Regions from separate parts of the Homo sapiens genome. Here all the other regions are reported to be linked to region 2. Evidence: microRNA targets listed by miRTarBase, many of them from high-throughput screens and not tested one by one. Region 2 holds a microRNA gene; each other region holds the end of a gene's coding sequence.

Region 1 (3,246 bases), not on the chromosome of region 2:
GAGGGGGAGGGCAAAGGGAAGGCGCTGTTCCCTCCCCGCCCTCCCCCATGAAGACTGGGGGGCATTCTGCCTGTTTTACTTCTCCACACCCGTTTAAGTCAAAGAGGTTTAAAAAAAATCTTAACATTAAAATAAATATGCAGTGGCCATGAGAATGGTCAAAATGCTTCAAAAAACACTAGGGCTGGGGAGCCCAGGGTGGGGCGTGGGGTTTCCTTTGGCATAAGGAGAGGAGGCTGCTTGTCCCCCAGGCTTCCTCACAGCCACATATGGAGGGACAGAGGACTCCCCACCACCTCCCAGCACTGCTGACAGTGCGCTGAGGGCAGCAGGGCGCAGACAGCCCCCAGAAATCTCATCTAGCAAGACAACGGGGCTCTGACACTCAGACGCTTCCCGCCATCACCAAACATCACGAAAGGAGAACACGACTCACACCCGGCAAGTTCTCTCTGGAGGACCCATCTTCTCACTCCCCTTGCCCCCCACCACCTAATTCCCAGCACCAAGATGAGAGGGAGGGGGTGGAATGGGAAGATTTCAGGAGAGAGAATTGAAGGGAAGGCAAGCTTTGCAGAGCCAGCAGGGTTGGGGATGGGGGCTGCAGCCCTTAAGAGAGGTCACATTGATTGTCATATAGGGGAGGACACGGTGTGGAGGGAGGTGGGCAAGAGGGGCGTCACAAGGCCCTTTGGCTTTGAAAATAAAAATAAAAACTAAAAGCTGCACAATCCTTCTCATCAATAATGGTCATTTGGAAGCCTTGAAATGATTTAGGAACTGAGGGTTGGGAGAAGCAAAACACAGAGAGACAGGGGATCAAAAGGGACCATGAAAAGATAAGGACTTGGACAACACCCCAGGCTTCTGGAAACCAGCATGAGGTATGGTTAAAGGTATCCGTTGGGGAGGGAGGGGGTCCCTGGGACGCCCCCCTCCCCTCAGCCCACCCTTGACAAGGGTGGCAAGACATTCAGGGTATACAACTAAAAGATGGGTAAGACTGTGAATAAAGCAAACTTGAGTAGGGGAGGGAGGCTGAAGGATCCCCCCTCAGGGGAGACCCTGTACTGTGTAAACGAAGCCTGTCCAGTTCTCAGGGGACAATACTGATGGCAGCCAAACTGGGCAAGGATGCAGTGTGGGGGCGGAGGGGGCATGACCTCTATTCAAGTTCTGTGTCTTGGCCCCTGGCTGAGGTATTGAGTGTGAGGAAGGGAACACTGGGCTGCAGGAGTGGGTCCAACTGTCCAGGAGGCTGCACTAGGAGATGGGTGGACAGAGCACTTAAAGGGACCAGGGCCAAATTCAATGCTACATTTAGAGAGAAAACTGCCCCCTCTTCACTCCAGCCCAGTTTGGCTTTTGGGGTGCGACTTTAGAAATCTTATCAGTGCAGCCCCCAGCTCAATCCCATCTTTCCTCCCTGCTGGGAAGGCAGGGACCAAGCCCCAGTACCTATTCATCTCTCTCTAGGTCAGAGCTTCTTCCTCACACTGGAGGGGAAGCCTGGGTCCCGAGTAGCCACGGTCCCTTGTCGGCCCTGCCCCTCCTACCATCTTTGGCTTCAGATCAGGAGTGACTGGGGCAGTGGGTACTCTTGGACATAACGGAAGGTGGAGGCAGATAGGGAGCACAGATAAACTATGGGCTTGGCGGCACAGGAGGAAGAACATGGTCCCTCCCTCCATATACATGCAAACACATGCCTGAAACACAGTGGACATACTAGGGCTGTGGTTTTGAAATGGGCAGGAAATTAATTTGTTTCTTCCCCTAAAGGATAAAACGCTTACTTAAAAATTCATGACAAGCCTCAAAGTTCAAGGGAAGGAGAGCCAGGGCAGGAATGACCACAGGCTCTGCCCTCCCAAAAGAAGATAAAAGAAAGAAGCAAGGTTAAAGTGCGTGGTTAGGGGCCAGGCTAGGAGTGGGAGGGAATGGGGAGGGGGCAGGCTGTGGGGGCAGAACCAGCCCTTGATTTGCATATGAGGAGCCAGGGGAGAGTGCAGGATTGGGGCCCAGGTACAGTAGTTGCTGCTTCAAGTGTTTTGCATTTGAACTTTAGGGGTGATAGGGTACAGAAGTGGGGAAAAAGCTCCAGGCCCCAGTGCTAAATATCCTCCCCCCTCATCCTCTAGCTGCCCCTGAAGGGGGGAGGGGGACACCCCCAGAGTGCTCACACAGTACCAGAAATTAAGGCTTCTCACTGCTGCGGGGATGGAGGGACCGGCCGAGCAGGGAGGCAGTGATGGGTATGGAAGAAGAGGGGATCTGCCTGGCAGTAGGGGCAGGGGAGAAGGGGGACACAGAGAGGAGTCCCCAGGGAAGAGTCGGGGGAGCTGGCAGCAGAAAGAGGGAACCAAGAGATGGAGTCAAAGAGTGGGGGAGCCAGGCATTTAGCAATCATTTTGGGACACTTGGCAGAAGGGGTCGCCCTGGGGGTACCAAGGGCCTGGGGTGCTCCCTGTCAGTCCCAGACCCCTGCCAGGCCAAGATGGTGTGGCAAAGGGGTGAGCAGCTGCTCCCCAGGGCTTCCTTCCCCTCCGCCCCCTCCACCCAGTCGTGTTCTCCTTTAAAGTGCCCTAAATGTTTAGACTTTTTCTAAATAAATAGAATTAGATATCAAGCCACCGGCGGGGGAGGGACACTGGAGGGGGCTACTCAGAGTAGCAGCCATCTAACCCAATGGCGCCGGGCCGCTCCTGGCTGTAGGGGCAGGAGGCCCCATGGGGCAGGGCGCCGCAGCCACCCACCGTCTTGGCGGCTGCAATGCTGCAGTTCTTGAGCAGGCTGAAGCTGAAAGGACTGACGGCGTCCTTGGGTGGGAAAGGCTTCATGGTGGAAAGGATCAAGGCCAGGCAGTCTGCCACATCTTTGTTGGGGGCACAGGCCAGTGCTGGGGTGTGACCTGCAGGGCCAAGGGGGAGAACTGAGGCATAGAGTCCTGTATCCTAGCCAGCCTCCCCCAAGCCCTGAAGTCTCTTCTCTGTGGAGGGAGCCAAGGCAGGCAGGTACCCAGCAGCGGCAGAATCCAAGGGTGACGAGGGCCCAGGAAGGCTGACAGGCAGATTCTCTAAGTACGGGTTAAAGGGCGGGCATGGGAGTCAAAGCCTAGGGTGTGGAGTCCTCCTGACCCTGCAGGCTCCCCTCTGAGACTCCAGAGTACTGGTGTGGGCTCCCTGCTCTGAAGAGTTCCCTTGGGAAGAAAATCCCATGTATAGCAAGATTAAGAAGTCACCTCCT
Region 2 (3,246 bases):
GCATGAGTCACAGGGTGTGATTGCTTTTCACCAGCCTAAACAGAGGATCCCCATTTGCAAAATATTTCTTGGAAGCACTTGCTGGGCCTCTCCCCCAGATCCCCAATCTGGGGGAGATGCTACATAAACCCCAGGGCCTGTTCTGAATGCTGCAGCTTCTGAGGGACATGGAGAGACAAGCACACCCATTGGTCTGGACTGGATGGATACAAGCTGCCTAAAGACCAGAGAGAGGTGCAACTATTCTGAGATTCAGATGTGAGGTGTCATCTCCTCATGATTAGAACCTGCTCACCAAATGCCTATCCCTCCTGCAGCAATTAGAGCTGCAGAGCCATCAGCTATGATTGGCTCGGTCACTGCTTCTCTGACATGAGTTCCCATCTCTCTCGTTAGTCTGAGGACTCTCCCAGGGTGTCTGTCCAACAAACCTTTTTCACTTCGAGATGACTGATGAAGGTCTCCAGGCTGGTTCCAACTGGGTCCCAGGAGAACAAGGCTCCATGCAGCTCCAATACTGTAGATGGCTCTGCAGGGGGATCTGAACAGAGAAGCCACTTGATTTGGGCTCCTAATCTACCACAATCTGTTTGGGGAGGGTAAATCATGTAATTCACTTGCCAGCCCCATATCTACCTGCCCAAAGCTAAATGAGTCTGTTTTGGATTCCGCTCTCTCTAAGCCCTCTTGGTGACATCTATGCGCAGCACCCAAGTGGCTCCACTTCCCTCCTCACCCTGTGCCAGGTTCTGCCCACTAGCTTCCCATTACCTGGGCTGTAGTAGGCCTGGGGGTTGTGGTTTGGAAGGTCGAGGAAAAGCTGGATCCGGTCCAAGGACACTTTGGCCTCCAGGAGACCATTGATCACCCAAGGGAAGTTGTTGAGAGGAAGAATGAGCATTCGCACCAGTGCCAGGGCCGTGAACACCTGAGTGAGGTGGGTGCAGGGTGAAGCCCCAGGAGTTATCTAAGGGCCTGTTTCTATGGGAAGCCCTGTGGACAGGTCTACGGAGGGAAGAACTGGGCAATGACAGAACTGAAGGGCTGGCTGGCCAATCCTGGGATCAGATGTGGCAGAGATGGTCACTTAAAGAATCCTAGAAATTCCAATGTTCCTCAAGGGATTCAGGTTGCATTTTTTTTTTTCTTGACGAGTCTTGCTCTGTCACCTAAGCTGGAGTGCAGTGGCATAATCTCGGCTCACTGCAACTTCCACCTCCAGGGTTCAAGTGATTCTCCTACCCTAGCCTCCTGAGTAGCTGGGATCACAGGCATGCATCACCACACCTGGTTAATTTTTATATTTTTAGTAGAGACAAGGTTTCACCATGTTGGTCAGGCTGGTCTCGAACTCCTGACATCAGGTGATCCGCCTGCCTTGGCCTCCCAAAGTGCTGGAATTACAGGTGTGAGCCACCACGCCTGGCCAAGGTTGCATCTTTTTAACTAGGCAGGCCTAGCTCATTTTGAGTCTTTTTTTTAGAATTTCCAAGTAGCAACATCACCTGGCCTTGGCTAGACCCAGGATTGCATCATACATTTTTTTCCTAAGGCCATTAGAACGAGGATGAAGAGACCTAACCCCAAGCCTGGAACTGAATAGAAGCTGGAGTGAAAGGTAGAGGAGAGGAAAGAAAGGAACTCCTTCACAGAGGGGAGGGTTATATATCCAAGGCCCCCACAAAAAGGTTTCTTCAGTTTTCCCTTGGTTGAGAGATGAGGCAGTCAGGGATCCCTCCCTCCTTCTCAGCCAGCACTGAGGGCCCAAGCCTCTGTCTTCACTTCGCTGAAGTCTCCTTGATGCTGGTCCCCTTCCTTCCTGGTCCTCACCTTGGTGGCAGTGAGCTGGTGCCCCATGAGGACATAGGTGATGAAGATAACGATGGAGATGACAACCGGTAGGGCAGCCCACAGGTATACACAGGCCGCATCCAGGTATTTGATGACCCGGAGTCGCCCCAGCTCTCGAGCCCGGCAGGCCTCTACTCGGGCTCCCAGTGCCTGCTCCCACCCGCAGAACTTGATGACCCGAATGCCACTCAGCAGCTCTGTCACAAGCTAGGGAAAGGAGACAAGGGAGAGGCGTGAAGTGGAGGCACTGCTCATGTGTCTTCCCTGCCAAGCCTTCCCCAGGCTGCTGGCAGAATGTTCAGTACTCTAAGCTCCCAGATACTCTGCACTGCCCTAGTCTTGGTTTTCTTCCTCACCTCAGTACTTTCTGGAAATCCTGCCCTTCAAATCCTTTTCAGCCCTGGGTTGCTTCCCCTCCCAGTCTCTTACTTCTCCATTTGCTCCAGCTGGGGACAGCTTGGAGTGGGAATTCCCCACCTTCCTAGGAGGAGTGGTGGAAGGTGGAGCCAGGTCACCACAGTGGAGTAAAAGCTCTCCTCCCATTAGATGAGGGACAAAGGGCTATCTCCCAAAACCAAAAGATGTGGGCTTCGGGGGCTGGCCCCCCAGTTCCGGCCCCCGGCTTGAGTGGCACAGAAACTATTCCTGTAGAAGTACACAGGCATAAGAGGCCACACTACAGCCCAGGGTCAAACAGGCTAATGGGCCCAGGGAAGATGGGCAAGGGCCAAAACTCCTCGTCTGTAGCTGTCACAGGTAGGGGAAAATGCCTCATGCCATAACCATCTATCAACCTCCCTTCCCTCCAGGAGCACTCTGAGCTGTTCCACTAAGGGTCGACAACTATGCTGTATGAACCCCCAGGACTGCCATCCCCTTTGTGAAGGTACCCACAATCACTGCAGAACCCAGAGCTCTGCAGATTCAGCCAAACCCTAAACACCTGGAGTTGACCCAGGCAGGAAAGTGACCTATTCCCTTCCCCTCAGCCTACCCAAAGAGGCAGCTGAGGTTCTCCTAGGTCTCTACATGCAGCCATGGGGTGGTCTGTGCCCTAGATAAGGAGGTTGGAGACTTGGGTCCCAGCTCTGGCCCTAAAGACCTGTTTGGAGCCAGACAGATGACTTCCTACCTCCCAGGGTGGCCACATGTATTCAGAGCTTACTTTGTGACTGGCACTACACTAAGCATTATCTCATGAGATCCTTACAACTCTACAAGGTAAGCTACTACTATTCTCACTTTACAGATGAGGAAGGGGAAGCCCAAATAGGTTAAGTGACTTGTCTGAAGTGATTGAACCAGTAAGTGTAGAGCCAGGATTTGAACCCAGGTCTACCTTTCTCCAGTCTCAGCTCTTAACTTTGAGGTCACTCTCACTCCCTCAGGTAGTGT
Region 3 (3,246 bases), not on the chromosome of region 2:
GCCCCTGGGGCTGAGGGGCCGGCGCCTGGGGACTCCCAGGCTGTGCGCCCCTACAAGCAGGAGCCCAGCAGCCCCCCGCTGGCGCCTGGCCTGCCCGCCTTCCTAGCGGCCCCGGGCACCACGTCCTGCCCCGAGTGCGGCAAAACGTCCCTGAAACCAGCTCACCTGCTGCGCCACCGGCAGAGCCACTCGGGCGAGAAGCCGCACGCCTGCCCTGAGTGCGGGAAGGCCTTTCGGCGCAAGGAGCACCTGCGGCGCCACCGCGACACGCACCCCGGCAGCCCCGGCAGCCCCGGGCCCGCGCTGCGCCCTCTGCCCGCCCGTGAGAAGCCCCACGCGTGCTGCGAGTGTGGCAAGACCTTCTACTGGCGCGAGCACCTGGTGCGCCACCGCAAGACGCACTCGGGAGCGCGGCCCTTTGCCTGCTGGGAGTGTGGCAAGGGCTTCGGGCGCCGCGAGCACGTGCTGCGCCACCAGCGCATCCACGGCCGGGCAGCGGCCAGCGCGCAGGGGGCGGTAGCTCCGGGCCCGGATGGTGGAGGCCCCTTCCCGCCCTGGCCCTTGGGTTAGCCGCCTCCCGGCCAGCGCCATCTCCCGCCCTTGGTGCTGCCCCCGGGCGGTACCTGCTCTCTCCCAGCGCCACTTGGCCTCTTCCTCTCCTCCTTCCCTCCCATCGTCCTCCTCCACCTGCGCCTCCCTTGTCTGAACTTCCCAACGCCTTCCTATTCCTTTCCAACTCCTTTTCCCCCAAATTTCACTTTCCTTCTCAGGTCTCACCTCAGCCCCCCCCTTCTCCCTGATTTCTCGGCCTCTCTCTCTGTGTGAAGGGGCCTCTCCCTAATGTCTCCTCCTTCCCCCCTCTTCTCTCTCCTGCGGCCCAGCCTCCCTCTCCCTCCTCCATTCCTCTCTCCCTGCCCTTTTCCTGCCTGAAGAGCAGAGGTGAGGACCTGGGACCCCTGAGGGGCAGGCCAGGAGGAGCTCGGGCGCAGGCCAGGCCCCCTTGGTGAAGCAGAGGCTGAAGGAAAGGGGTCTGGGTCTTGTCCCTAGGAATTCTCCTCCCTCAGGAGATTGGGGGTTGGGGGAGGCAGCGGGTGATGGCTCTGAAGCTGAACCCAGGGCCTGGCTGTGGTCTTCTTGGTCTTGCTGCCCCCTGTGACCCAAAGGCATGGGATGGACAGAGATGCCTGCCCCCGTGAAGCTGGTTGGGGAGGGCAGTTCACCAGCATCCATAGAGTAATAAAGTCACTGTGTGTAGACCCGGAGTCTGAGCTCTGTCTGGAGTCTGTCCGGCACAGCCACCCTCCCAGGGCCGAGCGTCTGGGGTGCCCGGGGCTTCTGGGGTCAGCTGTCTTGGCTCCCACCACAGACTCTCTTGGCATGAGAGAGGCTCTGGGAGTCTGGGCACAGCTGTGGGAGGCAGTGCAGGAAATGTGTCCTCAGGAGGGCTGTCCCCACCTCCATCCTACGGAGGCAGGGATGAGGCTCCTGGAAGGGACCTGCCGAGTGCCACACTGAGTCAGGTTCGCATCTGAGCCCTTCAGCTTCCTGGCTGGGAACCTACAGGTTGGTCATACCCTCTGGGCATGAGTTCCACATCCGCAAGTGATGATAATGGCACCCACCTCCCTTGCTAAGGCCACTCTGTTTGACTGGGGTCCTGAGTGTCAGTGTTGGTAGGTCTTGGGTGGCCCATTCTGCCACGCAAGGAATTCTCTCACCTTTAGCTGGAGCCATTGGCCGAGGGGGGGACTCCGTATGGAGGGCAGGCTTTGGCCAGCTGCATCTTTCCAGGATGCCACCTCTTGTCAGCTCAGCGAGCAACCCCGGTTCCTTCTCTCCAGAGAGGAAATCTGTAGCCTCTGCCGGGTGGATGAAGGGCAGTTGCCGGGCTTTGGAAAGCGTAGGATGAGAGCGCTGGTCTGACCACTCCCCTGCCGCCCAGTCTTGGGGCTGGCTTCACCCTGGTCCTTTTGGTTCCTGTGTGCCCAGCGCCTGAGCCTGGGAGGGGTTCTATGTCAAACCCTCCATGGTTGCCGCCTTGTGGCTGAGCCCGCCACGGTACCACCTTGCGTCCAAGCCCCCCCACGGTCACTGCCTTGCTCTCTGCTTCAGCTTCTGGCTCAGTGTCAAGGGCTGGGGCAGGTACAGCCTGTGCCGGGCTGCGAGGGCATCTGGAAACAGCCACCTGGACGGTCCAGTGCACATCACTGGAGTCTAGGTCTGCCTTCAAGACTCAACAGTGCAGGGAAGGGTTTAGGTGCCAGGCTATCCAGGAAGGGCAAGTGACCACAGGCCTCAGCACCCACCTCCTAAGACAGGACTGGTAGTAATGCCCCTCCTGAAAAGGGACTGTTTTTGAAAATTAAATAAGGCTGGGTGCAGTGGCTCATACCTGTAATCGCAACACTTTAGGAGGCTCGGGTGGGTGGATCACTTGAGCTCAGGAGTTCAAGACCAGCTCGGCTAACATGCTGAAACCCCGACTCTACTGAAAACACAAAAATTAGCCAGGCATGATGGTGGACACCTGTAATCCCAGCTACTCCGGAGGCTGAGGTGGGAGGATCACTTGAACCCAGGAGGCAGAGGTTGCAGTGAGCTGAGATCGCACCACTGCCCTACTCCAGCCTGGGCAACAGAGCGAGACTTCGTCTCAAAAGAAAAATAAGGTAATGAATGCAGAATACTTACGGGAACTTGGTGTGTGATCTCAGCCTGCTGCTTTCACACTGACAGGTGCATGTTAAGGACGTTACCATGCCCACCGTGTGGGGAAGAAGACGGGCTGGGAGAAGCCGTGTCGTCTGCTGCAGACTTTCAGGAAGTGACTAAGAGGCATGAGAGGGAGTATGAGGTGGTGTCAGGCCAGGGTCTGAGGACAGGGTTCTGATAACAGCAAACACAGAGTGAGTCTGCTGGGCCAGACCTTTTTAAAATCCAGTTTGTTTATCATCATAACCAACCGATGAGGCATGCACTGTTGTTATCCCCATGGTACAGATGGGGAAACTGAGGCACCAAAAGAGTAAGGGACCGGGCCACATCTGTGGATCTCATCCCAGGTGTCTGGGCTCACAGTATTCACTCCAGCTCCTAACAGCACAGCTGCTGCTTTTGCCCATTCAGGCTCCATCTCTTCTCTTCTGAAAAGCCTCCCGGGACTTCTGTGCCCCTTTGGGGACCCCTCCAACACACACACACACACACACACACACACACACACACCCCGTGTCTGGTCTCGGAGGG

The links. Region 2 holds the annotated microRNA hsa-miR-6780b-5p (UGGGGAAGGCUUGGCAGGGAAGA, at 2,110-2,132, opposite strand). A microRNA usually pairs through its seed, bases 2 to 8, with sites in the 3' UTR of a target mRNA and lowers its output. Matches are read on the target gene's strand: a 7mer-m8 pairs with bases 2 to 8, a 7mer-A1 pairs with bases 2 to 7 and ends in A, and an 8mer does both.
Region 1: miRTarBase lists ANKRD52 as a target of hsa-miR-6780b-5p. Seed matches in the 3' UTR shown: 7mer-A1 at 2,088-2,094 and 7mer-m8 at 1,502-1,508.
Region 3: miRTarBase lists ZNF444 as a target of hsa-miR-6780b-5p. Seed matches in the 3' UTR shown: 7mer-m8 at 851-857.

Annotation. Positions count from the first base shown.
Region 1 is chr12:56,240,482-56,243,727 of GRCh38, forward strand. ANKRD52 (ankyrin repeat domain 52) reads right to left here. Exons shown (of 28, transcript NM_173595.4): 28 at 1-2,911. The coding sequence ends at 2,661. Among named protein-coding and RNA genes, the nearest start is that of SLC39A5, 12 kb to the left of the region's middle. RefSeq lists an enhancer at 2,625-2,794.
Region 2 is chr6:43,433,433-43,436,678 of GRCh38, reverse strand. It overlaps MIR6780B (microRNA 6780b), which reads right to left and starts at 2,137; the gene lies at 2,059-2,137. It overlaps ABCC10 (ATP binding cassette subfamily C member 10), which reads right to left. Exons shown (of 22, transcript NM_001198934.2): 4 at 1,831-2,058; 5 at 772-928; 6 at 432-541.
Region 3 is chr19:56,159,632-56,162,877 of GRCh38, forward strand. ZNF444 (zinc finger protein 444) reads left to right here. Exons shown (of 5, transcript NM_018337.4): 5 at 1-1,262. The coding sequence ends at 570. Among named protein-coding and RNA genes, the nearest start is that of GALP, 15 kb to the right of the region's middle. RefSeq lists an enhancer at 2,814-2,913.